Regions from separate parts of the Homo sapiens genome. Here all the other regions are linked to region 3. The links come from fine-mapping of genetic effects on gene expression. A gene starts in region 3. Each other region holds a variant in brackets. All regions are shown on one strand. Distances are between the middles of the regions.

What was found. PIP is the estimated chance that this variant, and not a neighbour inherited with it, causes the effect.
Region 1: its variant is fine-mapped to the expression of LINC00865 in whole blood (INTERVAL, PIP above 0.99).
Region 2: its variant is fine-mapped to the expression of LINC00865 in whole blood (TOPMed, PIP 0.95).

The regions. Positions count from the first base shown.
Region 1 is chr10:89,817,582-89,824,665 of GRCh38, reverse strand. It overlaps LOC105378424 (a long non-coding RNA gene), which reads left to right. Exons shown (of 3, transcript XR_946196.3): 3 at 900-1,146. Among named protein-coding and RNA genes, the nearest start is that of LINC00865, 8.4 kb to the left of the region's middle. The variant A/TA (reference allele first, on the strand shown) is at 3,888.
Region 2 is chr10:89,805,286-89,816,523 of GRCh38, reverse strand. No RefSeq gene overlaps it. Among named protein-coding and RNA genes, the nearest start is that of LINC00865, 19 kb to the left of the region's middle. The variant G/C (reference allele first, on the strand shown) is at 2,796.
Region 3 is chr10:89,825,409-89,836,646 of GRCh38, reverse strand. LINC00865 (long intergenic non-protein coding RNA 865) reads right to left here and starts at 7,154. Exons shown (of 4, transcript NR_038382.1): 1 at 6,902-7,154; 2 at 6,343-6,677; 3 at 1,390-1,446. LOC105378424 (a long non-coding RNA gene) reads left to right here and starts at 5,826. Exons shown (of 3, transcript XR_946196.3): 1 at 5,826-6,615.

The DNA of each region.
Region 1 (7,084 bases), 9.9 kb after region 3:
CCATTAATGTTTTCCAGAATATTACTTAAGCATTTTGTCAGGAATGTTAATTTCTTCTCAGAATGAGGTTGCAAATTACATCATGTAAAAAGATTCCTTCCCACACCAGGTTTGGGGCAACTTCTCTTTTATAGTAGTCAGTTTCAAGGCAGTGACCAGAATTCATATGACAGTCAAGAATTGGAAACAATATAGCAGAGTGTGAGTTTTGCAGTCAAACGGACCTGAGTGGTGAACCTTAGTATTAGCTGATTCATGTGTAAAATGAGGGTAAAATAATAACTACCTTGTTAGGGAGGAGATACTAATAAATACTATTTCATTCTTGTTATTTATTTTCTCTGAATTTTTACAATTGATCACTTTTATATTAATCATTTTTATTCATCATCTTAATAATAAAAAATATTTGTTATTATTTTAAAGCATTATTATTTAAACATATTTATTATTTTTATGTGCTCATAGCAGCCAGGATCTGTATCTCCACATATCATTGCCTATTTCAAGGTCCTGAGGTAAGGTTTTAAAATTTAGAAAACACTTGAACACCAGAATCTGTTAGGCAATGTTATTCAAACACTAAGTTCCCCACACTATGGAAGTCAGGCAAAGTCCTAGACCAAATACCATTCTGAGCAAAGTTTTCACATACAAAATAATGTGTTAGTAGAACTAACTGTCTCTTCCCAGTAGCCCATTGCCATGGTAATCCACCAGACAAAATAGGATCGAAGAAAATATTTCTAATGCTTTCTTGTTCCAAGGCCTTGGCTTGCAATTTTGTCTTCTCAATAGACCATTAGCAAGTTCGTAGTGCCCTGTGCCAAACATCAAAAATTCAGATAAACTCAGGTTTATGTGTCAGTCATATTCTTCCCTTTTCTACCTTCAACCAGGGAATCCATGTGACCATTTTCCAGCCATTCTGGGAGTCCTCTGAGCAGCCAGAACAGAAGCATGGCCCAGCCTCCCCACAGCTGAGTCAGGCCCTTATATAATGAGTCCTATTGTTCCTCAATAAAAGCAATTTCTGTATTTCAAGATGTACGTCAAAGAAACATTTAACGGCAACTCAAACACTGCATTTTTCAATACTGGGTTAAATTCTTTTTTTTTTTTACAATCAGTAATTCATTTACTTCACCTGTATACCTATCACAACAGTCAATCCACTGTTTCATAATTCCTTGTTTGATCATCTGATGCTCCTACTAGCCTGTGAGCTGGGGGGCCGGGAGAGAGTCTGCCTTGCTCAGTGCTTTACATCTGCAGCCCAGCACAGTGCCTGATGGCAAAAGCACAAAGTATAAGTGATCAAATAAATATTCTATTATAATTGATTACTTGAAATTGTGAAAAACAAAATTCACCAGACAATTAAGGAGATGATTTTATTTAGGCTGTTGCAATGAGGAGAATGTTCATTTTGTGAAAGAAAGGGAAGGGGTTCTGGGCTTTTATAGAGTTGGGTAGACAAAGAAGCTATCCTTGAATCATGAGGAGGGATGGAGACAGTTCCTACCTTGGCAAGATGCGAGGACAAGGTATTCTTTTGCAGTTAACCATTTCCCGGGATACAAAAGAATGGGCAAAATTCTCAACAGGTGCTGCTTTCCAGAAACACAAGGCTCAGATAAAGTGCAACATTATCCAAATTAAATATGTAAAGCATAAAGCACAGAGACTAAGAACACGCAATAGCATGATAGGCACTTCTAGCTGGATAAAATGGTTTAGAATAAACAGAAAAGGCAACCTTTCCCTGGACACAATCACTAGAAGTTTCCTGGTGGCAGCTGCTCCCAGGAGTGTCTGAGATCCTTGCCCACTTCTCACTCCAGGCTGACCGCTAGGTTCCCAAATGTCAAAGACCCTCACTTGTCTCCTCCCATCACTCTCACTGCCTACTTCTCAGGTCATGTCCCTTGGAGGCTTCTTCAGTATCTATCACAGTGCCCAAGCTGTCCTGTATAGTAGGTGCTCTCCAAACATATAAATTATATGAACTTACTTATATTATATATTTATTTAGTTATATAAATTTTAATTATATGAGTTTAATTTAATAAACATATAAATTATATGAATTTAATTTAATTCAATTATATGAATTTAATGAATGCATGGCCAAGAGCTGAAGTTTTGGAAAATCTAATGTCATACTGATTATCATGGTTTTCTGTCTTCACGGAGAAAACAATTACATTGGCGAATCTCTGTGACGGCAGATTTGCTCCACCCTGGAGTCTTTTTCCTGTGTCATATTTTAGAATCATCCTTTTAAAATATTTTGAATTTTTCTGTTCTAAATGCATTACACTGCACATGTCCACACTTAAGAGGTCCATGTCGTCCAGGCACAGTGACTCATGCCTGTAATCCCAGCACTTTGGGATGCCCAGGCAGCAGATCACCTGAGGTCAGGAGTTCGAGACCAGCCTGGCCAACATGGTAAAACCCCGTCTCTACTAAAAATACAAAAATTAGCCAGGAGTGGTGGCACGTGCCTGTATTTCTAGCTACTTGGGAGACTGAGGAATCAGAATCACTTGAACCCGGGAGGTGGAGGTTGCAGTGAGTAAAGACTGCGCCATTGCACTCCAGCCTGGGTGACAGAGTGAAACTCTTCTAAAAAAAAATAAAAGTCTATGTTTACTGCTTTCCTACATATTAGAACAGCCTCCTAAATTTTCCCTGCATTGGTACTCATCCACTTAGCTTTTCCATATCCAGAGTAGTTCAGCATTAGCTGCAGACTTTGGAGATTTCACTGTGTGAGCCCTTCTCTGGATCATTTATAAATGTTTTAAATAAGATTGAGCCAGACCAATCCCTGAGGAACCCCACTGTGTTTACCCTTTTCCTTCCAAACAAATGTGCATTTCTACTGATTCACTTTGTTTCCTGTCTCTAAGCCAGTTCTAAATCTGTGACAAGATACCTTTACCCATCCTATGATGACAACAATTGCCATTAAGCAATACTTCAGAGGTCTCACAAAGAACAAAATGTCACCGGGGATACAGAGGCACTTTGTAGTGTGCTGATGTGACACTACCCTCCTCACAGTGCCATTTAAGAACCACTTAACACAAAGGTTAAATATTGTCCCTACAGAAATTCAGGCACAACAGATGATCAACAGATCTGGGATGCAACAGAATATTTCAAACCCAAGTTTCAACAAGAGTATTTATTTCAAATAATGTCAGCTTTTAGTTTAGTAGATGAGGTTTCAGAATTCTGAAGACTTCAGCATGAAGATATGTCCATTTAAGAATGTTGCCTCTTTTGGAATGAGGTTTCAAGCATTGTTTTATAGAAACTTTGGGAGGCTTTGCATGAACTTAAGACTTTTAATATACATGAATGGAAACAAACACTCTTTGGCTCAGTTTCTACCTGTGCTAAATTTGGTGTTCGTTAATTCTTCAGTATTCACTAAGGAATACTCAAGAGCTACTCTTGTACAGAGCCTTTTCTGCTATCTCCACTACAATGGAAACTTCTCAGACTCTAATTACCTGTTCAGAGTTTTTTGTTTGTTTGTTTGTTTGTTTGTTTGTTTTTTAAACAAGGTCTCACTCTGTCGCCCAGGCTGATGTACAGTGATGTGATCTCAGCTCACTGCTACCTCCACCTCTCAGGTTCAAGTGATTCTCCTGCCTCACCCTCCCAAGCAGCTGGGACTACAGGCAGGCACCACCACACCTGGCTAATTTTTGTATTTTTACTAGAGATGGGGTTTTGCCACATTGACCAGGTGGTCTTGAACTCCTGGCTTCATGTGATCCCCTGCCTCAGCCTCCCAAAGTGCTGGGATTACAGGCATGAGCCACCGCACCCAGACCACACACTTTTCTTTTTCTTTTTTTTTTTTTTTT[A/TA]AGAGAGACAGGATCTGTCACCCTGGCTGCCAGGCTGGAGTACAGTGGCGTGATCATGGCTCATTGCAGCCTTGACCTCCTAGGCTTAAGTGATCCTCCCACCTCAGCCTCCCAAGTAGCTGGACTATAGGCATAGGCCACCATGCCTGCCTGATTCTTTTATTAGTTTTTGTAGAGATGGAGTCTCACTATGTTGCCGAGGCTGATCTCAAACTCCTGGGCTCAAGTTATCCTCCTGCCTTAGCCTCCCAAAGTGCTGGGATTACAGGAATGAGCCACCACCCATGGCCTGTTTATATACTTCTTAACAACCAGAATAAAACATTTTTTATGATAGGAATCACAATGTATTCATCTCTATATCACTAGAGCCTGACTAGTAGGTACCTACTACATATTTGAAAAAATGTGTGAATGAATGAATGTATAAGTGAATGACTATCCCCAGTAACCACCCCACTTGAAATAGGAGCCATGAAATGATATATGTTAAAAATATTTAGGTGTTCTGGAAAAAACAAAAAACAAAAAGCAAGGGAGATTAAAGGTGGGGTGTTGATATGGCTTGGCAGTGTCCCCACTCAAATCTCATCTTGAATTGTAGCTTCCATAATTTCCACATGTTGTGGGAGGGACCCAGTGGGAGGTAATTGAATCATGGGGTCAGGTCTTTCCCTTGCTGTTCTCATGACAGTGAATAAGTCTCACGAGATCTGATAATTATGTAAAGAAGAGTTCCCCTGCACAAATTCTCTCTCTTCCCTGACGCCACGTAAGATGTGCCTTTCACCTTCTGCCATGATTTTGAGGCCTCCCCAGCCACATGGAACTGTGAGCGAATTAAGCCTCTTCCCTTTATAAATTACCCAGTCTGTGGTATGTCTCTATTAGCAGCATGAGAACAGACTAATACAGTAAATTGGTACCAGGTAGTGGGGTACTGCTGTAAAGATACCCCAAAATGTGGAAGTGACTTTGGAACTGGGTAACAGGCAGAGGTTGGAACAGTTTGGAGGGCTCAGAAGAAGACAGGAAAATGTGGGAAAGTTTGGAACTTCCTAGAGACTTGTTGAATGGCTTTGACCAAAATGCTGATAATGATATAGTCAATGAAATCTAGGCTGAGGTGGTCTCAGATGGAGGTGAGGAACTTGTTGAGAACTGGAGTAAAGGTAACTCTTGCTATGTTTTATCAAAGAGACTGGTGGAATTTTGCCCCTGCCCTAGAGATCTGTGGAACTTTGAATTTAAGAGAGATAATTTAGGGTATCTGGTGGAAGAAATTTCTAAGTGGCAAAGAATTCAAGAGGTGATTTGGGTGCTATTTAAAGCATTCAGTTTTAAAAGAAACACAGAGCATAAAAGTTTGGAAAAGTTGCAGCCTGATGATGTGATAGAAAAAAAAAAAATTTTCTGAGGAGAAATTCAAGCCAGCTGCAGAAATTTGCATAAGTAACGAGGAGCCAAATGTTAATCACCAAGACAATGGGGAAAATGTCTCCAGGGCATGTCAGACACCTTTGTGGCAGCCCTTCCCATCACAGGTCCAGAGGCCTAGGAGGAAAAAATGGTTTTGGGGGCCAGGCCGAGGACCCCCTGCTGTGTGCAGCCTAGGGACTTGGTGCCCTGCATCCAAGCTGCTCTAGCCATGGCTAAAAGGGGCCATGGCCTTCAGAGGGTGAAAGCCCCAAGCCTTGGCAGCTTCCATGTGGTGTTGAGCCTGTGGGCACACAGAAGTCAAGAATTGAAGTTTGGGAACTTCCGCCTGATTTCAGAAGATGTATGGAAATGCCTAGATGCCAAGGCAGAAGTTTGCTGCAGGGTGGGGCCCTCACGGAGAACCTTTGCTAGGGCAGTGCAGAAAAGAAATGTGGGGTTGGAGCCCCCACACAGAATCCCCAGTGGGGCACTGTCTAGTGGAGCTGTGAGAAGAGGGCCACGGTCCTTCAGACCCAAGAATGGTAGATCCATCAACAGCTTGCACCATGCCCAGGGAAAAGTTGCAGACAACATCAGCCTGTGAAAGCAGCCAGGAGGGAGGCTATAACCTGCAAAGCCACGAGGGCAGAGGTGCCCAAGACTATGGAAGTCCACCTCTTGCATCAGCATGACCTGGATGTGAGACATGGAGTCAAAGGAGATCATTTTGGAGCTTTAAGATTTGACTGCCCTGCTGTATTTCAGATCTGCATGGGGCCAGTAACCACTTCATTTTGGCCAGTTTCTCCCATTTGGAACAGCTATATTTACCCAATGCCTGTACCCCCTTGTATCTAGGAAGTAACTAACTTGCTGTTGATGTTACAGGCTCATAAGTGGAAGGGACTTGCCTTGTCTCAGATGAGACTTTGGACTTTTGAGTTAATGCTGAAATGTGTTAAGACTTTGGGGGACTGTTGGGAAGGCATAATTGGTTTTGAAATGCGAGGACATGAGATTTGGGAGGGGCCAGGGCAGAATGATATGGTTTGGCTGTGTCCCCATCTAAATCTCATCTTGAATTGTAGCTCTGATAATTCCCACGTGTCATTTGAGGGACCCTATGGGAGGTAATTGAATCATAAGATCACGTCTTTCCCATGCTATTCTTGTGACAGTGAATAAGTCTTACAAGATCTGATGGTTTTATAAAGGGGAGTTCCCCTGCACATATTCTCTCTCTTCCCTGCCACCATGTAAGATGTGCCTTTCACCTTCTGCCATGATTGTGAGGCCTCCCCAGCCACGTGGAACTGTGGGTCCATCAAACCTCTTTTTCTTTATAAATTACACAATCTTGAGTATGTCTTTATCAGCAGCATGAAAACGGATTAATGCAGGTGTGAAGGTAGTTGGCAAAATTAAGTGGGTGGTCCCAGTAAGCCTTATTGAGAAAGTAACATTCTAGAAAAGTTACAAAGAAGGTGGGAGATTGGGCCAGGTATACATGTTGGGTGTAAAGAAATGCAAAGGATATGGTGAGGGTAAAGACTCACGGCCAGGGCACTACTGGCACTGGGGAAGAAGCGAGAGGCCCGTGTAGCTGGGAAAGAGATGGGGACACTAGAAGATGAGGTCAGGGAGGTAAGGAGAACAATGAGGATGGGTGTCAGTGGGCCATTGTAAGCCCCTTAGCTTTTACTTTTAGTGTAACTGGATTTTGAACAGAGAAACAACATGCTCTGACTTATATTTTAAAAGATCACTCTTGCTACTGT
Region 2 (11,238 bases), 20 kb after region 3:
CTCTCAGACTACACCCTTCCCTTGGGTATTCGCTTAATGCAGTTGAATTCCTAATTAGTGACACTTTGGGCATTTACTCAGTGTCTTCTGTGTGGGTCAAGCAGCAAGCTAAGTTCTGGAGATTCAAAGATAGTGAACATGGTTTCTAACCTCAGAGATCTGGTCTTGTGTTGACTGCAACTACTAGGTTACAATGTAGAGTGATGCAGAAGCCACAGTGGGTCCATGTAGCACAGAGAAAAAGCAGTCTGTGTCTTCTGGAGTCAGATTAGCTTGGGTTTGAATCCTAGATCTACTGCTTACTGGCTGGGTAACCTCAGACAAACTGACCTTCCTGAGGCTGTGTCCTCACCTGAAAAATCACATCACCTCAGAGCATTCTGGAGTTGATGAAATGAGATTATGCATGTAAGCACCGGGAAGATGCCTGACACAGAGGATGTGACCAATAAGTGTGACTATTCCTTCTATAGAGAACGAGCAGTGCACTAAGGATGCCCGGAAAAAAACAGAACGATCCTCGCCTTGTAACCCTGCCAGTGGAAATGTCAAAAATGTCATGAGGAAGGTAACACCTGAGCTGGGTCATGAAGGATAAGTAAAAGTTTACCAGGTAGAGGAAAACAAGCTGCTCCAGAGAGGGTTTTCCTGAATAGAATGTGTTGTTTTTTTGATTCTTGCCCAGTCTGGCCCCTCAAACAGCTTTGGACGGTGTCCCTGGGGTTCAGAAAGAAACCCCACTTCAGGGATCAAGAGAGCTAAGACAGGGCTGGGCACAGTGGCTCACGCCTATACTCCTAGCACTTTTAGGAGGCCAAGGCAGGAGGATCATCTGAGGCCAGGAGTTTGAGACCAGCCTGGGCAACATAGGGAGACCCCTTCTCTACAGAAAAATTTAAAAATTAGCCAGGCATGGTGGGGCATGGTGGTGCACTAGCTACTCCTGAGGCTGAGGTGGGAGGATCGCTTGAGCCAGGAGTTCAAGGCTGCATAGTGAACTACAGTTGCACCACTACACTCCAGCCTGGGTGACAAAAAAAAAAAGAGACAGAGAGAGAAAGCTATGACAGCACAGGCCTCTCCACACACTCCTGACTATGCAGGAAACACACCCAGTGGCTAGAGGAGAGGAAAGTTCAAGCAGCCTTTGAAAGAAAAGAGAAGGGTGTCAACCTGGCCAGGAACAGCTCCCAGGGAAGGGAGGGGCAGCGTCCAGGTGTATTCTAAGTGCACAGCATCCTCTTAAGCCCTTGAGCACTGTAGAGGGCATGGTCCCTGGGGCTGAGCAGCATAGCAGCCCTGCAGAGGAGTACTCACTGCCTCCACATATCAGAAAAGCCAAGGCATGGGCTCCTACCCAAGAAGTGCTGTGACCCTGATCAGCAGATTCAAGGAGCTTGAGAATAGCTTTGGAGAAGCCACTGACTCTCCACCGCCAGGAGCTGAGCATCATTCACAGGCCTATAGGTACAAAGGTAGACTGGATACACCAGTGCGTGGGCAAAAGTCGGATGTTATAGATTTCTCTAGGTTGAAGTTAAATTTTCGGTAAGATAATACTGCAAAAATGTTTAAAAACCATCTTCTGTTACTCCCTTCAAAAATTTCTCCTTCCAATTCCCTTGAGGTGACCACCTTTGTGGAGCTCTCTCCCCACTTTGCCTCAATTTTATTCACTGATTTGTTTTTGAAGTGGACTGCGCTTGATAATAAAGCTAGACCAGAAGAATGAGCTACCTTCAGTGGAACTTCAAGCATCCGTGGCTTGTCCGTGGCTGGAAATTTTTGAAAAAGGGGTTCTCCCAATGTATCCCAGCGAAGGAAATCAGACTATTTTACCTCAAAATATACTTCTTTGGCATATTTTTAGATAGCTAGTCAGAGAGGCTGCAGGCCACAGGAACAGCTTTGAACAGCTGTCCTGTTCAAAGATCTGCAGAGAAAATCTACATTAGTGAAACAAACAGCAGAAGCAAACAGGCTTTCTCTGAGGCCCCTTTCATCTCCCTTATCTAGGTCTAGTGAAGATTAACTCAGAAGGTCTGACACTTTTAAAGGTCTGACAGAGAAACAGTGACTCTGTCTATTCCATCTGAGGGCAGCTCCAAGATTACAAGAGAGATTTTTATCTGCGTAACAAGACAGCTTTGGCTTGTCATGCTCTTCTGCCTCACTCTCCCATAGCCTGGGATAAAGAACATGATGAATGTTAGTGCAAGGGCCAAGAGAAAACTTCCCCTTTGCCCTGTGAAGTTTCTCTGAAAATCACTGACGAATGGAGATTAATGAGAGGAAAGACATACCATTATTTGATTATAATTTTATGTGACACAATAGCCTTCAGAAAGGAGACCCAAAGATACAAAGTAACTTTCCATTTTTATGCTTAGGTTCGACAAAGTACAGACAGCAGGTAGAAATTATGATTGAACAAAGAGAGTATAATCTAATGCTAGAAAACTGAGCAGGGAAACCCAGCAAGACCTGTCTGTTTACATGCTTCATGGCCTCTCTGTACAGCATTCCTCCCTTCTGGGTGTGGGGTAGAACCCTTTCTGGAATGGGGGTCTTATGACCCACAGGCAAACAAGGTAGTTCAGATGATTTCTCTATGCCAATTTTTATACAAAAATACAGGAAGGAAGTTAGAGCAATATTTTTAGGTTTTATGGCTGGCTTTGGGGGCAAAGAGTTCTGGTTTCTATGACCCACCTTAAGGAAGAGGGATTCTAGTTTCTATGGTTAGCCTCGGGGGAGAATGAGAGGCCAGAGACAGGTGGGCAGGAGGTCAGAGA[G/C]AGCTGCTTCTGAGGTCTTCATTTTGGGGTTTCGTTTTCTGAGACCCTACATCAGCAATGGTTTTTCACTAGTGAGATAAATGGTCTTCAAGATGTGTGCATTGGCTAAAGTATTTAAAGGCTCTTTCTGTTCTTTGCACAAGTAGGATAAAACCAAAAATCTAGCACGAGCACTAGTCTGTATCTTTTGGAATGTGCCCCATGCTTGACTGCAGACAGAACAGCTACTGATTCAGGGGATTCTTGCTGTCTCTATCCAACTATAAGGTTAGCTGAATCCACCCATTTACAGACAATTTATTTTTGACAAAGGTACCAAGAACACACAATGGGGAAAAGACCGTCTCTTCAATAAATGACGTTGGGACAACTAGATATCCACAAGCAGAGAATAAAATTAGACCCTTATCTCACACCATATACAAAAATCAACTCAAAATGGATTGCAGACTCAAACATAAGACCTAAAATTGTAAAACTACTGGAAGAAAACATAGGCACCTCTAAGACACTGGCTTTGGCAGTGATTTTTTGGATATGACCCCCAACAAACAGCCAACAAAAGTGAAAATGACAAATGGAATTTCGTCAAAGTAAAATGCTTCTGCACATCCAAGGAAACAATCAACAGCATGAAAAGACAACCTATAAAATGGGGGAAAAAATTGCAAACCATATATCTGATAAGGGGTTAATATACAAAATACATAAGGAACTCAATAGCAAGGAAACAACTGGCTAAAAGTAGGTAAAGGAACTGAATAAACATTTCTTAAACAAAGACATACAAATGTCCAATGGCCAATGGTGTATGAAAAGGTACTCAACATCACTAATCATCGCAAAATACAAATTAAAAACCACAATGAAATATGATCTCACACCTGTTAAAATGGCTAATATCAATAAGACAAAAGATAACAAGCGTTGGTGAGGATGTGGAGAAAAGGGAACCCTTTGTGCTGTTGGTGGGAATGTAAATTGATACAGCAATTATGGAAACTAGTATGAACGTTCCTCAAACAATTAAAAATAGTACTAATAGTATGATCCAGCAATCCCACTACTGGGTATATATCCATGGAATATGAAATCAATACATCAGAGAGATATCTGTACTCCCATGTTCATTGCAGCACTATTCATAATAGCCAAGATATGGATTCAACCTAAATGCCCATTAATAAATAAATGGATAAAGAAAACGTGGTACATATACACAATGGAATTCAGCCTTTAAAAAGAAAGAAATCCAGTCATTTGCAACAACATAGGTGAACCTGAGGACATCATGTTAAGTGAAATAAGCTAGGAATAGAGAGATAAATACATTATCTCACTTACATGTGGAATCTAAAAAAGAAGGAGAGAACAGAATGGTGGTTATTGAGGAAAGGGAGGGTTTGATTGGGAATATATTGGTCAAAGGGTACAAAATTGCAGTTAGGAGGAATAAGTTCAAGAGATCTATCATATACATGGAGACTATAGTTAATAACAATGTATTATATTCTTGAAAATTGCTAAGACAGTAGATTTAAGTATTCTCACCATTTAAAAATGACGTCTGTGGATGTAATGCATATGTTAATTAGTCTGATTTAGCCATTCCACAATATATACATGTTTGAAAACATCATATTACACATAATAAATACATATAATTTTTATTTTTCAAAAAATAACTATGCAAGTTACAAATTAAAAAATTTTTAAAAAAATAACATTAGCTACACATTGCCACATTTTCCTCTCATGGACCTTGCATACCAAATATAGTCAGAGAACCTCAAAGATCAGAGCTGATCATCTGGGGGCCTGCTTGCTACTAAATGTCACTATATATGGCAAAATTTGGCCTGAAACTTACTTCCATCATAACCTAGTAGAAAGTTGTGAGCAGAAGGCCCATAACCTTCACCAGCCTCTAATCCTTAGAGACGACAGACATTTCCCAAAAAGGACCTAACAGTTGTACATGAGGAAATTAGCTTGGTCATTTCACAACACCTGCCTCCATGATGCAGACTGGGGGTCACAATCTTGAGGATCTCTTCAGCTGCAACATCCCACAGCTTTTCAATTTACCTAAAATGTGTACAGCATCTACCTCTCATGCCTGGAAGCAGTTATATAACCATGAAACTGCTCCTGGACTTATAATCTTAATTTTAGTGTTGATCTTTTCCACCAACAGGAGATAAAGAAAGCTCCAGGGTTTTTCCAAAGCCAGCAATCCCTGTTTTCAAAGGTGCTATTAAGTAGTTACAGCATAATTGATGTTAACAATCGCTGGAACTCAACAATAAGGCCCCAGGGAGCATGAAGTGGATTTGTTCTCTCCCTCCCTGTCCAAAGAGGCTTCCCCCAAGATCATGCCACCTGAGGGGAGGTATTGTTTGATGCATGAAGCTGCTCCACTCCTTTTCTTCTTACTTGTCTAGATTGAAAGCCTCTTAGTGACAGCTCCCGCTGCTCTTTCAATGGAGGGTCCTTTCGCCTGCAGCAGAAGTTCTGGCACTGCAGGAGAAAACCAACTGGAGACCAGGAAATGGGATTTTAAACTCTCTTTGGGTACCTGGCACTGACAGGTAGTGGTGCCTACATGAACTGCTGGTTCTGTTTCCATGGAAACGTGAAACAGTTTGGACAAACAATGCCAGCATTAACCAGGACTGCCCCAGACAACAAGCTACCTGTCATTTAAAGAGGAATCCTAAATTCAATTCACACCAATATTTTATTGGGCCAAGCATTTTGCTGTTATGAATACAAAGGTAAATGAAACAGACACAGTCCTTGCCCTCAGGAAACTCCAGTCTAGCAGATTGGAGTGTATTCTGAAAAGAAAGATTCAAAGTACGGTAAGATAAACCAAGCAGATTTTACCATGTCTAAAAGGTGTTAAATGAAAAACCTAAAGGGTGAGTAAGAGTAATATAGATAGATAGATAGATAGACAGATAGATAGATAGATAGATAGATGATAGATAGATAGATAGGTAGATAGATAGATAGATAAGTACATATACATATGTTAAAGATCTTTTTTTAAATTTTTTACTGCTAGGGCTCAATAATCAAAAGTGTTTGAGGATCACCATCCTAGAGCAAAAAATTTCACATTAGAGTCACCCAAGATGCCTTTTAAAAGGACATATTCCCAGTCCTCTCCTCTAGCAATCATGTTTGGTAGATTGGGGTGAGTTACAGAAAATTATTTAATAAACACTCCAGGTAATTTTGATGAATACTGCTCTGCAGATTGGTTCCTTAGAGGGTAATTTATTTACTCTGCCACCAGTCCCAAGGGAGATCTTTGATCCTAGTCCACATTTAAACTTAGGATGGGGAATGAATTTTGTTTGATTGTTTATGTGTTTTTGTGGCATTTGAATATTTTGCTTATTGGTTATTGAAAGTGGCCTAAGTGACCTCTCCATCTTCTGGATTTCTCCAATAATTGAAGATTTCTACTTTGTGACTCTGGAGATCCACTTCTGCTATCTAAACCCTTACCTGGGCTTCCCTCAGCCTTGTCCCTGGCTTGTAGCTCCAGAGTTCATCAAAGTTGTGTCTTCCTTTACAATTTGTCTTGGCCCTTTCCAGTAGGGCAGCCAACTATCCCCGTGAGTCTGAAACAGAGAGATTTACTGCAACTTTGGACTTTCAATGCCAACTCCAGGAAAACTCCAGGTGGACCAGAATGAGCGTGTCATCCTAGCAAGAAGCGTGGCTTTCAATAAACAGCTGTGTATTTGATGTTAGAATAGTGGATCAGGGCCAAAAACAAAAATCGTTAATCCTTCCTAGAGGTCTGGTTTCTTCTACTCAATCATTTCTAAGCTTTCTTTGTGTTCATCCATCCAACTTCCACCCAGATCCATGGAAACAAGAACAGTCACAAGGCTATTAAATAAAATTTGAAAGTCTCTTGTCAATTTAACTGACTGACTGCAATGACTTAGAAATGCTAAGTTATACATGACTCTAATGCTGTTTGGAGGTAGAGAATAATTAATAAACCAGTGTCCACATTCCTAAGCATTGTCCATTAACTCAATCAGCTCTTTCTTTTTCTGGCTTTAGATAATTAAGAATAATGTGTCTTCAGTCCTGTGGCTTGAAAGGTTGTAGCTGATCCAAATAGTAGGCCTCCTGCAAAGAACTGCTCTGTTCCCTGTAATCTGTGTTACAGCAAGTATTTTATAAAAGGTTATGTGTGAAATCCCTTCCCCTCCAAGTTGAGTCCAATTCCCCATTCTTGATGGTTGCCTAGTGAGAAAGTGTCACTTTCTGCTCAGGCAAGAAGAAATGAACCAATATTCATTGAGAACCATCTATGCGTTAGGACCTGTCATAGCTATTTTAAAAGCCCAATCTCCCTTCATCCTCAAATCAAACCTAGAAAGAAGGAATGTACAATTCCTTTTTACAAATGAGGAACTCAATGCGCAGAGCATTCAAGGCTACACAGTTAAAAGATGTGAGCAGAGCTCCAACCCCTAGAAACAGTCTGCACTGACTAAGCAACAGCTTCTCCTCCACCGGGCATGCTCTGAGTCTCCCCACAGGGTCCCAGCACCTTGCTCATGTTCAGTTTAATTAACATGAAGCAGGAAAGGGGGTATATCTTTAAAACCCAGTCTCAGTCACAGGAACTCTCAGGATCTCTCACTTCCTCTGAGCAGCATCTGGATTCTCAGACAGCTGGACAGCATGCAGGCACTCTCTCCACTTTGTCTCCCAGAAGCAGCTCATTTTTATCCTGCTGGTTTCTGACTCTGGTAGGGACTCAATACTGCCTTTCTCATGGGCAATCTTCCTCTTGCCAATGCCAGGCTCCTCTCATCAGTCCCAGCTGCCCTCCTAGCTATTTCGGCTGCTGGGCATTTCCAGGGGGTTCTGAAATATTTCCTTGGCACCTGAGGTTATTTCCTTAAAGAGTCCCCCACCCATTATTCCCCTGCTTTTGATAAATAAGGCTTATGAAGAAAGGGTGCTTCTTTATAAACTGACTGATGTATGGAGAAGTAGGTTGGTCTGCCTGTGGTTCTCAAGCTATATATTGTTCACTGGGGTCCTAGAGCTTACCCAGGAATAAGCCTATACCAACCCACAAAACACCACATCCACAAGCTTTCCCTAGTTTTTCTGTATGGCAGGCTTTTGGTCCTCCAACTCTGAAACTTAGGGTTTACTAACATCGCCTCCAAGGAGCTCATTCTCCTCCAGCCAAACTCAAATACCAACTAAGGAACCTGGAAAAAGTCTCCATGTCCTCTTGCGATGTTTCGTATTCCTCTTCCCCATAGAGCTGAGGTATAGTGCAAATGGCCTTTCCAAGAGGAGCCCTGCGTGCCCTCTTACTATCCCCAGTAGAAAACATAAACCTTTTTTTTGAGAACATGTCTCTCTGTCACCCAGGCTGGCGTGCAATGGGGTGATCCTGGCTCACTGCAGCCTTCCCCTCAGGTTTAGGTGATCCTCCCACCTCAGCCTCCTGAGTAGCTGGAACCACGGGCGCACACCGCGAAGTCTGGCTAACTTTTAAAATGTCTGGTCAAGACAAGGTCTCACTATGTTGCCCAGGCTGGACTCAAACTCCTGGGCTCAAGCGATACACCCACCTCGACCTCCCAAAGTGCTGGGATTGCAGGCACCAGCCACTGCGCCTGGCCAAAAAACCTAAATCTTAATTATAACCATGATTATAATAAAAATAAAATGTAAGTACAAGCCCTTTATTTCAACAGTCTCTTTTCAGTGCAGGCTAGGTCCTGGACTCTATAATCTGATAGGGAGCAGAGATTGTCAGGTTTTTATATTTTAAGGGCCATGGAGAAGAAAGGCAGAAAACATCTCCATTGGCAAAATAGAGGAAAAACAAGTAGTTTGGATCTCTTGGTTTTGGATAGTTTACTCTCTGTGATGACATATTAAGGTTGGAGGCTAGATGTCAAACCTAATTCTTAATTTAAACATTGTTCAAATTTCTAAAATGCATCCCAGCCTCTCCTCCCAAAATGAGGAGAAACCATGACATCAAATTACATCTGCTGTAAATTATCTGCTGTTCTTTTTAACTTGGGTGTATTTGATTCAAGCTGATTGCTTGTGTTAGCAGAAGATGCCTCAAAGTATATTTGATCTGTAAGTTGTTTCCTGAGCTACATCATCTGCTGTCTTTGACAGCAATGTCTTATTTCAGATAGCATCCAATTAAGAGCAAAGCCCCACTCCCTTGAACTTGCCTCAAATCACTCACAAGCCCAATACCTGTTAAGTCCACTCTACAGCATTTCTTTCCTCTGCCGTGTTTCTCCATGGTGTTCATTCTCCCTCACTGTAAGTCAATAAATCCAATTCTGTTTGGCTTCAGGTGTGTTCCTGGTGGCTGCCCACTGAAGGCACTGATGGAGTGAATGAGTAAATAAGTTCCAGAAACAACTCTGCTGCTCAGTAACACTAAATCCTTGAATAAACCACCCTTCTATAAAAGAAATCACTCTCCTTTTTTGGGCACCATTTATCATCCAAAAAATAGAATAGCAGATGTGACTTGGATAATCATAAATAGTCTACATGCAAGCATAACATTCACTTTATTTTTATAAATATTTTGATTTCTCTTTTACAAGTACTCGTTCATTCTTAGCAATGACAAAACTAAATATAAGCCAATGTGGAAAACTCTGCCCAGCCTAGTAATTCTCCTTCTATCATTTCAAGTTTAAATGTCATTTTCTTCAGTATTGTCATCCTTGTTATGAGTCACCATGCAGTCCCAAGTTTTCCACTTGACCCACCTGAGCCCTAACCATTTGTTTATAAACGTCCAGGAAACCTTATACTTCACTACAGTGCCACGAGTCTATAGTGTTGTGGAGAAAAATCCAAATATCTGGAGGCACGGAGGTGATAGAGCATTATTCATCAGATTCTTGTTTGTTCCTCTGCTAATTGTCTCTCACTCAACGAGCTGTCATGGATGACCTCCAGAGGCAGCCCTGTTTCCTCCCCTATCAAAGTCAGAGTATCCCGGCTTGCCCCACGGACAGCACAGGCCTCTGGCAGTGGTAACGGGACAAGACAGTCCCCACTCTCTACTCACTTTACAGCTCATTCTGGGACTGACACAAGCTCATGTGTCTCCACTATGGGCTGCAGTGGAGATGCAGTTGTTCCCTTTTCTCCCTCTTGCATCTTCTCAAGTGCACCCCTCTGCAGTCCTCCATGCTCAGTACTCACAAGGTTCCAGGTGCCAGGCAGAATCAATCCAAACCTCCAAATTCATGCACAGCCTCGTGGCAGATTCCCTTGGGCCCCTGCCAGGTCCAGGTCCCCTGATCCCCTCAGAAAAGGGAAAAGGAGAGAGAGACTAGAGGCCTGTGCTCACCTCAGAAGGCCCCTCGCTTCCTCCTGGCACTCTTCATACCTTCTTTTCTAGCCCGCAGAAAAGATGATCCAGCTCAATTTCCCTCAGGCATCATTGCCTGCTGCTCTCCACAAAGAATAACCCCTGAGATAATGAGGTAGAATCCTAGGGTTTCACAGAGTCCATTCTGAAAATTCAGTTTCTTCTTCCTCCACTAAAGAATTTTTACATCATAACATAAAATGAGCCTTGAGACTTCCTGAAGTGACACTGCTCAGTGCCCAGCTTTCTTCTCACAGCCAGAGACAGGAACTAGCCTCCTCATAGGGCTTGATCTAGACTCAACTCCATATGGAAGCATCATTGGCAACTTGGAGCTGGGGTGTGAGTGGAGCTGAGGTGTGAGTGTGAGTGGGATTGGGCCATGTAAATAGTAACAATCATCACACAGACATTTTCTCAGTCTTTTCTCCTTCCTTTAGTTCTGTATGTGACTGTGTGAGAGTCTCTGTGGGGGGTGTGTGTGTGTGGGTGTATAGTCAGTTATATAGTGATTGCAGAGGTTTCAACCTCCATGAAGTGCTGTGATGCTGAGGTTAGTTTCATCCTCTTCTGCTCTTAAGAGAGAGACTGAAGTAACACTAACATAGGAAAGAGAAAGGAATGAATAGCTCTTCTTTCCTTTCACGTATAGAATTGAAAAAATGAGTCATATTCGTCAAGTAAAATCTGCTAGCACAGCTGTGGTTTAAAAGTGAGAAAAGCGGGACTGCCATGGAGATAAAGCAGGTCTTAGATGGTTAACAGGGAGAGAACAAGGAATTGATTAGTTTTAGCATGAGAAACATTGAACAAAACACAGAGTAAAGCCTGGCTATAAAAGTGGGTTCATAAATAAATGTAAAGATTTTCTCTATTAATTAACTCTAAGGGGAAAAGCACTGATGTGTGTTAATCTGTGGCTCTAATGCTGTTCAGTAGAGGGTTGTTTTTAATAGGGTAAACCTGGGAAACCTAGATGACCAAAAAATGTGGCGGGGTAAATAAACTATATAGTACATCTCT
Region 3 (11,238 bases):
CATGTATGGCCTTTAGGCTTCTATAAGGACTTTTACTCTGAGAGAATGAGGTTTTCACAGAGAATTGACATGATCTGATTATGTTTTAACAATATCCCTGTGTTTGATAAAGTGTTTACAGGGACAAGGACAGGAGTAGGCAGACCCTAGGAAATACGGCCATGGTCCAGGCGACATGATGGTGGCCTGGACCAGGCTTGTGGAAGCAAGTGTGGGCATAGGACCCTGTGGCTGGAGGCTGGTGCCTGCTGAATTCACTTTCTGAGGGCCCTCCAGTAGGACTCTCTCTGCCTCCCAGGCCCAGTATGGCCTTACTTCCAGTTCTGTGCCTCCCAGACTCCCTCTTCAGCTGATACCAGAAGATTCAGGTAGCAGAGGCCAAAGAGAGTAATATGAGATTTAAGTTAATAAATACATAACTAAAGGAGATGACATAGAGGAAGAGAAGGTCATCCATTCATCAGCTGCAAGCAACAGAAACCAACTCAGGTTAATTTCAATGGGAAAGGTGTTTGTGATAATGATATTGGGTGGATTACATTGCCAGCATGTATGAAGAGCCAGGTTCTATGAAACACAGGCTCACCAAGACATGACACAGCTCACCTAATGTTGACATCCCTACCAACACTAACAAGCAAAAGACTCTACAGCCTGCACCACCAACCCCTCCACTACTGCACTGTGACACTGCCTCTAGCTCTGCTGCCACAGCTGCACTAGGAATTCAGTCTGAATGGAGGCTCTCAGTCCCTGCTTCTTTGAGTTACTGGTTCCTGCTTCCATGGCTGAATCTGATTAGTGGAATGTACCTCACTTGGTCATGTCCTAGCTCCAAGGGAGTCTAGGCAAGCAAGAGTTTGGCATTTTCATCTCCCATTGGGTGAGGCAGTCTCTCCTCCACACTATGGCTAATAATGTTGAAAAAGATTCCAAACATACACTGGATTTTAGATGCTAAGCAGAGCTAAAAATTCACAAATGTCCATAAGAAAATGTAAATCAGATTGGGACCAGTGAATGTCCTATCTATAATATTACTAGACTGATTTCCTTCTGTGGCTGTGATCCACAGTACCAGAAGGAAATTATAAAAATATAAAAATGTTCCATTTTGTTTGTAAGTGATTTAGCCTTCTGAGAAAACTCAATGATTAATATTTATTTGGGTATTTGTTTAAATATTATTGTCGACATGATAAATTTTTTATAAAACGTGTGTGATATATGTATATATGTAGGTATAGATATGTATGGATAGACACATGATAGATAAGACACTCAAACACTGACAATATCATTATATCATTTGACACTCATCTTGATCCAGCTATAACTAGAGCTAAAAAAAACTCTTGGAATTTCCAGGTATTGAAACAAATAAATTACCTTTTGTGTTTCAGCTAGTTTGAGATGACTTTCTGTGTCACTTGTACCCAACAGAGTCTGGAATAAAAAAAAAATTTAAATATTATTGATACTTAACATTTGTTTATTCTATTTGGACTTATAAATGGACTTATATGAGAGATTTTTAATTAGTATCAGAAGTAAATGAGTTAATAAAAACTGAAATGATTGTAGATTTATTTTTATAACTTTTATGTCTACAGCTATGATAAATTTTTATATTTTAAATTTCTATATATACAGTTTTTTTGTTTTTTGTTGTTGTTGTTTGTTTGTTTCTTTTTTTTTTTTTTGAGATACAGTCTTGCTCTATCACCCAGGCTAGAGTACAATGGCATGATCTTGGCTCACTGCAACCTCCACCTCCCAGATTCAAGTGATTCTCATGCCTCAGCCTCCCAAGTAGCTAGGATTACAGGCATGTGCCACCACGCCCAGCTAATTTTTGTATTTTTGGTAGAGATGGGGTTTCATGATGTTAGTCAGTGGATCTTGAACTCCTGGCTTCAAGTGATCTGCCCGCCTAGGCCTCCCAAAGTGCTGGGATTACAGGCATGAATCGCCACACCCCAACATAAATTTTCTATATTTTTAAGGTATAGTTTCTCCTAATGTGTGTAGGTAGGACATAATCATGCTTTACAAAAAGGAGAGATGTTCTGCTGGATTTTGAAAAATTATTTTTAAGTTCCAAGCAAGACAGGTTCTATTTGTTCCTGGAAAGGTAATTGTTTTGACATAGATTTAATGTCATTGTGTGAAGAAAGAATATATTTTAACACTTAAGCTACTTATATGTGAGGAAAAGGAGTAAGGAAGATAAGTTTTTGATTAAATAAATATAGTAATAGCATAAAATTAAGGCTCAACTATGCATCAGACTCTAGGGCTGATACCATCTTATCCTTAACACAGACATACCACACACATAGTTACTTTGCCCTAAGGATTCTAGAGCACTAAAATAGTGTATAAAAATGTATATAAGGCCAGACACGGTGGCTCAAGCCTATAGTCCCAGCATGTTGGGAGGTCAAGGTATATGAGGTCAGGAGTTTGAGACAAGCCTGGCCAACATGGAGAAACACATCTCTACTAAAGATACAAAAATTAGCTGGGCAGGGTGGTGTCCATGTAATTCTAGCTACTCAGGAGACTGAGGGATGAGAATTGCCTGCACCCGGGAGGCAGAGGTTGCAGTGAGCAGAGATTGGGCCACTGCACTCCAGCCTGGGTGACAGTCAGACTCCATCTCAAAAAAATAAAAAATAAATGTATACAAGAATGTTATGAGACACTTCCCACTAATCATCAGAAAATGAACATGGACATATACCTTTACTCCCTCCCATAGCTCACTATAAGGATCCTAAAGATATTAATTTAAAAGGTCAAACCACAGAATGAATAGAAGTGGCAAAGAGACAACAGCAATACAATTTTGGAAGCAACAATGCAGATGTTTTATTAGCAGTTTTTAGCAAAGATGAGAAAGCGAAAACCTAAGCCAGCAGTGGCAGAAATATAAACAGAGTAGTTTCTGCTGCAAATCCCTCAAAAGCCCTGAATTGGAGGTGGCATGTGCCCAATGGTGGAACAGGTAAGATGAAAAATAGGGGAACTGGAAGTCTCAATACTTAGCAGTCCATATCCACTCCCCACTGGCAGTAAACTGGTTTATTCTCCAGAGATGTCAATTCAGCAAAGCTCTGGACTTTAGGACCAGAGTCGCCCTAAAGGCAGTAAGACTGTTCTGAAAACCAGGGAGCAAGTGACAGGGTACATTCCAAACAGACTATTTGACCCCCTTATCGATAAGGATCCCAGAATATTGATGGCTAATTTAGGGTGCAGCATTCAGGCTTGGTTTATTTTCTTCTTTCTATATGTTTTTCATTCTTTACAATGAACATATATGATGTACGCAGTTTTAAAAAATCTAGGAGGTGAATAATTTTCAACCCAGAATTCTATATCCAGCCAAACTATCTGTTGTGCTACTCCAAAATATAAAGGATTATTGAGCTGCAGGTAATTAAGAAGAAGCAGATGCAGAGAAGCTCTCTGCCATCCCTCTATTTGCCTAAAAGCAGGACATACAAAAACTAAAAGTATTCTGCCTCCCTTCTACCAGGGAGACCAAAAGATAACCACATAAGACAACTTTAAACTGTTACCACCTGGAGATGATACCAGGGAAATCTCCATTAACAAACATTACTAGCTAGCCTTTATTTGCTATGCATTTGCCTTCCCACAAGTTGCCACTCCTAAAGTTCTTTTCCTTTACCTCTCCAGAAATTTGCTGTTCATTATTGAAGATGCTATATCAGCCAGAATTCAAAGCCAATTCTGAGAACTACTCATTCCCTGGGTGTCTCTGGTGTATGTATGAAATACACATGTTAATACACTTCTGTTTTTCTCTTGTTGATCTGTCTTGTATTACAGAAGTTCATTTCAACTAAGAACTTACTGTTGAAGAAAATGATTACTCTTCCTCTATACAACCAATTATGAGAGTAGATTGAAACATTTATCTCACATGCAAGGCCTCATATTTACCTCCAGACATGCTATAGCAGAGCCTTCTGAAAGATGCACTCTATCAAAATGAAGGCGTACTACCAGAAAGAAAACCAGCCACATATTCACAGAAATAGGGGATCCAATATATGAGAGAAAAAAATTGAATTGTCAGGATAACAGTAAGAAAACATCTCAGGGCCTACAGAATAAGTAGTCCAGATTGGAACAGGAGAAAAGAGGGGTTCAGAAGCAAAGAATGCCTTCCGTAGGGCCGACTCATCCATTAGGCTGAGTAGGCATAGTGCTTGAGGGCCCATGACGCTGTTAGGAATTTACAAAAATGTCGTCATTTTAATTTCCTTTAAAATTAGGAGATAAAATTAATATAATAACAGTGACTATATGATAATAAATCCACCCTGATCATATTTACCTTTATACCAACGTGGCTGTAAAATAATTTTTATTTTTTATGGAGGAAGGAGCTCATGAAGGCAATGTACCTAGGACCGTGGCCTCCAGGAAAAAAAGGAAAATAAAAGAAACTGGATAGTTTCATTTGAATGTATCAAAAGGCACTTAAGACTTGTCAGAATTTGGCAGAATGAACTGATAATAACTACTTAGAAAACTAACTAAACAAAAATCAAGGCAATGCATAGTCAAGGAAAAACAAAAGCAAAGGTCTACAAAAAAGAAGTAAACCTAATACACTACAAGTTCATCTGTGAATAATATTTACATTGTCAAAATAAACACTAAACACTGATAAGATTTTTAAAAATATGATATTGCAAGATTAAGAAATGAAAGAAGAAGCTACATGCCCAGTTGTAAGACAGCCAACTCCTCATCTTTTGTAGAAGAAAGGCAATAGATAAGAACCAAACTGAAAAATAAATAGTATGAGAGGTATATTATAGGCTTGTGACAGTAAACAATAGAAAAAAAAACAGTTAAAAGAGATGAAAGTTGTTGCCTTTGGAGAGTGAGAATCAGAGATGGAGAAGAGTGGATAATGGTGTAATTTGCATTACATGACATACAACTTTTTGACTTTATGAACAAGAACCTAAGTTACCTTAATGAAATTTACAATTAAAGAACTTTAAGGATTGTTGAGAGTTAATATAATTAAATGAAGAATTTTCTACTTTTCTAAGTGTTTATGTATTAATTTTTTTAACATTTAAGAAGTGTGAAAAATGATTGAATTACATGGTAGCCTACTTAGATGCCATGAAAGATGTGCTCATGGGACATTAAAGAGATTGAGTAGACTGTGAGGCCAAAGTGAAATTCCAACCTGATGGAAGTGAACAGGGAATACTTCAAAAAGAGAAGAATGACTGAAAATGAGGAAAGTGAAAAATGCTAAAACTGGTTAAACAGAAGGGTCAGGAACAGTCAATATGTTATAGTCAGTATGGAAGAATACAATATACATTATGTATATGAGCTTTTCATGAGAAGACATGGGGGAAGAGTTAAACAATAGAATAACAACCATAATATTTTATTAATAACTATTATGAGCTGCTAAAATGGCATATATTTGGTAGGATATTAGTATATAAAAAAGGCTTGAGGTATTTAAAAATCTGTTCCCAGAAAATTATCCCCAAAAGTCAAAATATATATTTCATAGTTCTTTTAAATCCCTGACTTTCCAGCCACATATTCATACCACAATGCTGCACACTAAGCTGTAGATGGTTGAGTGATATGGTTTTGAAAAGATAATAAAAGAAAATTGAAAAGACACTCTTAGGTAAAACAAAAAGAAAATATTTCTCTCAGACAATTTAAAACTTAGGTAGTATAAGATAATTAGGGTTTTTAAAGAAGTCACTTTACAGAAGAAAGGAAATAAAAATTTTGCTGACCATGGCATATTTAAGAAAAAAAATCCAAGCAAAGAGGGGAAGAGTTATGATGAGCAGTGAGCAGTGAGGTATAAGCCCAACACTTTTCAGCCCACTGAAGTGTCCTGCCTACAGAACTCAAGGCAATTTCAGACTTCCTATCGACTGACATAGGTTTGGGGGTGCGGGAAATGACTCAAATGCTGCCCAAAATATATTTTTAAAAACTTTTTCCCTGATAAGCTTTTTAAGCCAGATAATGAAACCAAGTTGTTCGTGTTTCATATTTGAGAATCTAAGTACTGGATAAATAATAAGGGCTATCAATTATTGGGGGCTTTAATAATTCTTCAAACATTTAATGAGTGTCTTCTGGGTGCCAGGCGCTGGGACTATAGCTGTAAACTAAACAGGTGGCTACCTCCACAGAGTTTATAGTCTAAGGATTAAAAAATTAGACCTTGCACAATAGTGGGAGGAGACGGGGAAGTAAGGCCACCGTTGGAAGGTGGAGAATTGGAGAAAAGTCTCTATTCACCTCTCCTGAAGTAGTCAAGTGAAGGAAAAGTCACAGGTTACATATAGAGAACTGGGAACATCCAGTTGCAAGAGTGAGACCACAACAGGAGCTGGCGAAGAAGTGCATGGAAGGCTGTTGCCTCTGCATTGACTGTGGGTTTGGGGCTGCTGTTGGTCAGCAAGGCAGGCAGAAAAGGACACCAGCTGGAGTCAAGACAGAGGCAGGCGAGGACAAGCTAGAGCCCACAAGCAGTACATCTACACTTCTCTCCTTCCGCACCAGCTACACAGAGTAACGGTTACTCTTTCACTTCTGCTTCCCAAATCTGGCATAGATATATCTTTTGGCCAAACCTGATATGGAGACATAATGGAAATGAAGTTCTAGCTTAGGCCAGTTGATACAAAACCAGCACGGTCCATCCCTTGTCAAATTGGCGGCCGAGAGCACCTCCTTTTACCATATTTAATTTCCAGTAGCAAAATCTTGCTTCAACCTAAGGTGCAACTAACCCTGCTACAACTAGAAACACCCTAAACCTCTCTCCAATGAGGATATGAAGTCCCGTAGGACTTACCGCATAGGTCACTTTATCTTTGGGGAAAGTTCATCCTTTTCTAGCTGAGTCACACTGCCCTTTTAATATCCTGAGATACATGCTGAACTACAATACTATTGACACGTTTTATGTTCAATAGTAGAATGGATGGAGGAAGAGAAAGAAAATGAACCAGTATTATATTTGCAAAATGAAAATCAATCCTTCTGAAATATTTAAACGGTTTCTGCCTTTGTAGGAGACCGTTTGGTAACGTATCGAAATCCATAACGGCCGTGATTGGCGCGCAAGCGCGGGGCTGCCCAGGGGCCCTCCTTGCCTCCCGCCTTATGGGCCCGGAAGGTCCTTCTTTCCCCTAGCTTGGACTCCAGCTCCTGCCCGCGGAGCTTGGTCTAGCTGCGGGAAGCATTGAAGCACAAGGAGAGTACTTTTGCACAATGACCTCCAAATTTTACTTTGAGGACTTTATCATAGTGAAACTACCATGGCTGTAGCTTATATCGGTTTTTTTTTAAATGAAAATAACCTAATTATGCAACAGCGGGAGGGTTGCTTGAGTAAATTATTGTTAACTCCAAATGACAGAATAATGTATGAAACAATTAAAAATAATTTGTTAAAACAATGAATGACTTAGAAAGATTTTTATTATTAAGTGAGAATAAAAGCAGAAACCTAAAAGATATATTCAGTATGAGCTCATTTCTGTAAAATGATGTATTTTACAGAGGAGAATAAAGTTTAAAGCATGCAAACCAACGTGGTAACTGTATTAAACCTACTTAATAACAAGAAGCTATTCATAGTAAATAAGTTGAATTTATAGAAAGAAATTTACTATGAGGACAAAAAAGGATAAACAGGAAAATATTTGCAAAACAGATAATCTAACGTATAACCAGTTCCTTCAATTAAATAAGAAAATAAGAATCCAATAGCAAAAATGAGGACATGTTTAGAAAAAGAAATAAAACATTTTAAACATGTGAAGTGTTTTATTTCATTTCTGCTAAGAAAAAGCAAATTAAAACAAAAATCTAATATTATTTTAACCATCAGAAAGCTTGACACATTGAGTTGACAAGAGTAAAGGAAAACAGGCATCCCGATATATTGCCAGTGGGAGTAGAAATTGCTGACACCTCTATGAAAAAAATACGCAAGCCAAAATTTTCAATAATGTGCCCCTAAACCCAACAATTTTACTTTAAAGTGTAGACATTCATTGCAGCATTTTTTATAATCTGAAAAAAACAGAAACAAATGTACAGATAAGAACTGGTTAAATAAATTATGGCAAAGCCATACAATGAAATACTCTGTGATGATTAAAAATAGTAAGGCACTTCTTCATGCAATTATATGGAAAGATCCCCAATATATATCAAGTAAAGGATTTTAGGTATATAATGGTATAATTAAACCCTACCATTTTTGTAAAAATAAAATATGTGTGTATACACACATATCAGGTATGCACACCCACATTCCTATATGGGCATAAAACATCTCTAGAATGGAACAACAACAAAAAATTGATAAATTGCTCCCTCTATAATTTTGAGGAAGCTCCCAACAGCTAATTAATTTTTGTTCTTTGCCCTAAACCTGCCCCTTTTTTCATTTTTTTCATTTCCAAAAAGGTACTACCATTGATTGTCTCAGAAAAGTAGAAATGAGATTTGTTCCTTCTCTTGTCCTCACCCAACCCCCATTAAATCAGTTATCAAATCCTGCTAACTTTATTTCCAAAACAAGTCTCAACTTTATCTACTTGTATTACAGATGTTGGCTATTTATCAACGTTTTCTGTTCCTTTCAACCTTAGTCATAGACGTCCTGATTTTCAACTAGACCTGTAGTAACCTAGAGTAAACATTTTATTGTCTATCTTCCATTGTAATCACATGGGGCCATGCTACTGAGTGCTTTCCAATGAGCTGTAACTGCAAGCATCACGTATAATTTCTAGAAATTCTCTTACAGGAAAGGGATGTATCTTTTTTCCTCCCTTCATCATTCACGTTGTCTGGGATGAAAACAACATGACTGGAATTAAAGCAGCCACCGTCAATGAGGAGGTTGAAGTCACGTATTGACAAAATGGAAGGAATCTGGTCCCTAAGAATGGTGGAGCCACCAATTGAATTCTAGGCTATGTACAGATTTCAGTTATGCGAGAGAGGAATAAATATCTGTCCAAGCCACTGTAATTTGGAGTTTCAGTTACAGCTACTCCAAATCCCAAATGATAAAATGTCTCTGTATTTCAATGGCCAACCACCTGACCAAAGCCCAGTCCATTTCACCTGAACTGCTGCAACAGCTTCCTAACTGTTCTATCCACATCCCACCTTGACCTCTTCCTCTGCTGAATTCTCCACACCTCAATAAGAACATGCTTGTAATATATATATGTATATATACGTATATATACATATATATGTATATATACATATATATGTGTGTATATATATATATATATATATATATGATCGAATCCTCCCTTTTTTTTACAATCCTTTAAGAAATTCCCATTAGTTTTAGAGTAAGTTTAAATTCTCAACATAGCCTATTCAATCTTACATTGTCTGGCTCCTAAAACTTCAGCTCATCCCTCGCTGCTTCCCCCCCTCACTCACTGGGCTCCAATCACATGGAAGTTTCAGATATCCTGTGCCCTCTACTGTTAGATTCACCTTAAATCTTCTGTCTCCAGTCCCTACTGCCTACTAAGTCTACTAATCAAATCTTTCGGGTCTCTGGTAAAATGCAACTTCCTCAGGAATTATAGTCAGGAATCATGACTATACTTTCTCATGACATCTTGGATTATGCCTTATAGTCCTTATTTCCTGCATGGTTAGCATGGTTATTTGTGCAATTATTCCTTTAATGTAGAGGTTTCAAATGGTATGTAGGACTAATCTGCTTACAGATGCATTCCATGGTCCACACAGTATTTCTTTTGAAAAGCTTTAATCAGTGCATTCTCTTTTTGGTTTGTCACACTTCCCATCAATTCACACCATTTCACAAATTTAGGTCCCTTTCCTGCCTCCTGCAGGCCTTTGCACATTTGGCCTGCCTCTCCTACTAAACTAGAGTCTCCATGAGGGTAAGGATGGTGCCTGTCTTCCTCATCACTCTATGCCCACTATCTGACATCCTTAAGACCTATCAAGGTGCTCTGGAAATCCTTGCCTAAGGAATAAAGCCAATGAATGAGCTGTTTTCATTGCCATTATTAGCAGCCTTTTTCTTCCTTTGGTTTTATTTTTAATACCAGATACCATAAGTAGATAAGTGTGGTGGAAGTATCCATTTGGTAACTATTTCACATGAAATTTTGAACAAATTTAGCACAAGACTCTGAACCTTAAGGCAAACTTTCACTTTTTATCCACTGGACTAAATAGAAAGTAAATTCATATAGTTACACTTTTGAATTTTGAGAAGTTTACAAAAATATTTCATCCAGGCCATTCTATTTCTATTCCCTAGGAGTTAGGCACCTCACTGACAGTGCCCCCAATTCTCCAAAGGCTTTTTAGCTCAAGGTTTAAAAAATGAAATGTAACTTTTAAAAAAGCAATCTGTCCTCCCTGATGGCAACTCCAAAAAATAAACCCAGATCACACTGCTTAAACGTTTTATGACAGCAAACATTGTGCTTAATACAAAACAGGAATTTTCAATTTGTCAATAATAAGAAAATGAAGATGCAAAACAAAATGTCTCTGTATTTTCCAGATATTTTATTTTTATGTTTCATATTTTCTTATTCTTCAAAGGGACAGAAGTTTGAGGTTTTGTATTTATTTTCTAAAGCTGTGGCCTTCTATATTTTGACAGAAAGTATTAGGGCTGAGTTACTTCTAAAAATTCCAGGTTCTCCACTCTTATAACACATTTACATTGACTTGAAAATTTTTCATTGCACCTACACACACATTTTTTGTAGGTTTTCCTCACTTGGTGAAGACTGCAATGTTGTTAATACCTCTGAAGCATTTTAGAGTTACCCAAACTCTAGATGAAAATTCTACAATAAGGAAATTCAGCAGGATGCTAAATAAGCAATATTGCTCTTTCTCTATAATTGTTGTCAAAATGTTAAAAGCTAAGCCTTCCAGCCAAAACAAAAAGAAATGATAATTTTCTGGATTGGATCAATGGTCCATTCAGGCCAATAGCATCTTCAACAATTCATTTGGGAGGTGATTTGCCCCTAACTATAATGTTAACAAGAACAGTGTTTCTCCAAGCATTTCAGAGTCTCTTAATCATGGTTCTTTTATTTGTGAATATATAAAAACATTTTTAAACTCATAATATTTCCCTTGACTTACTGT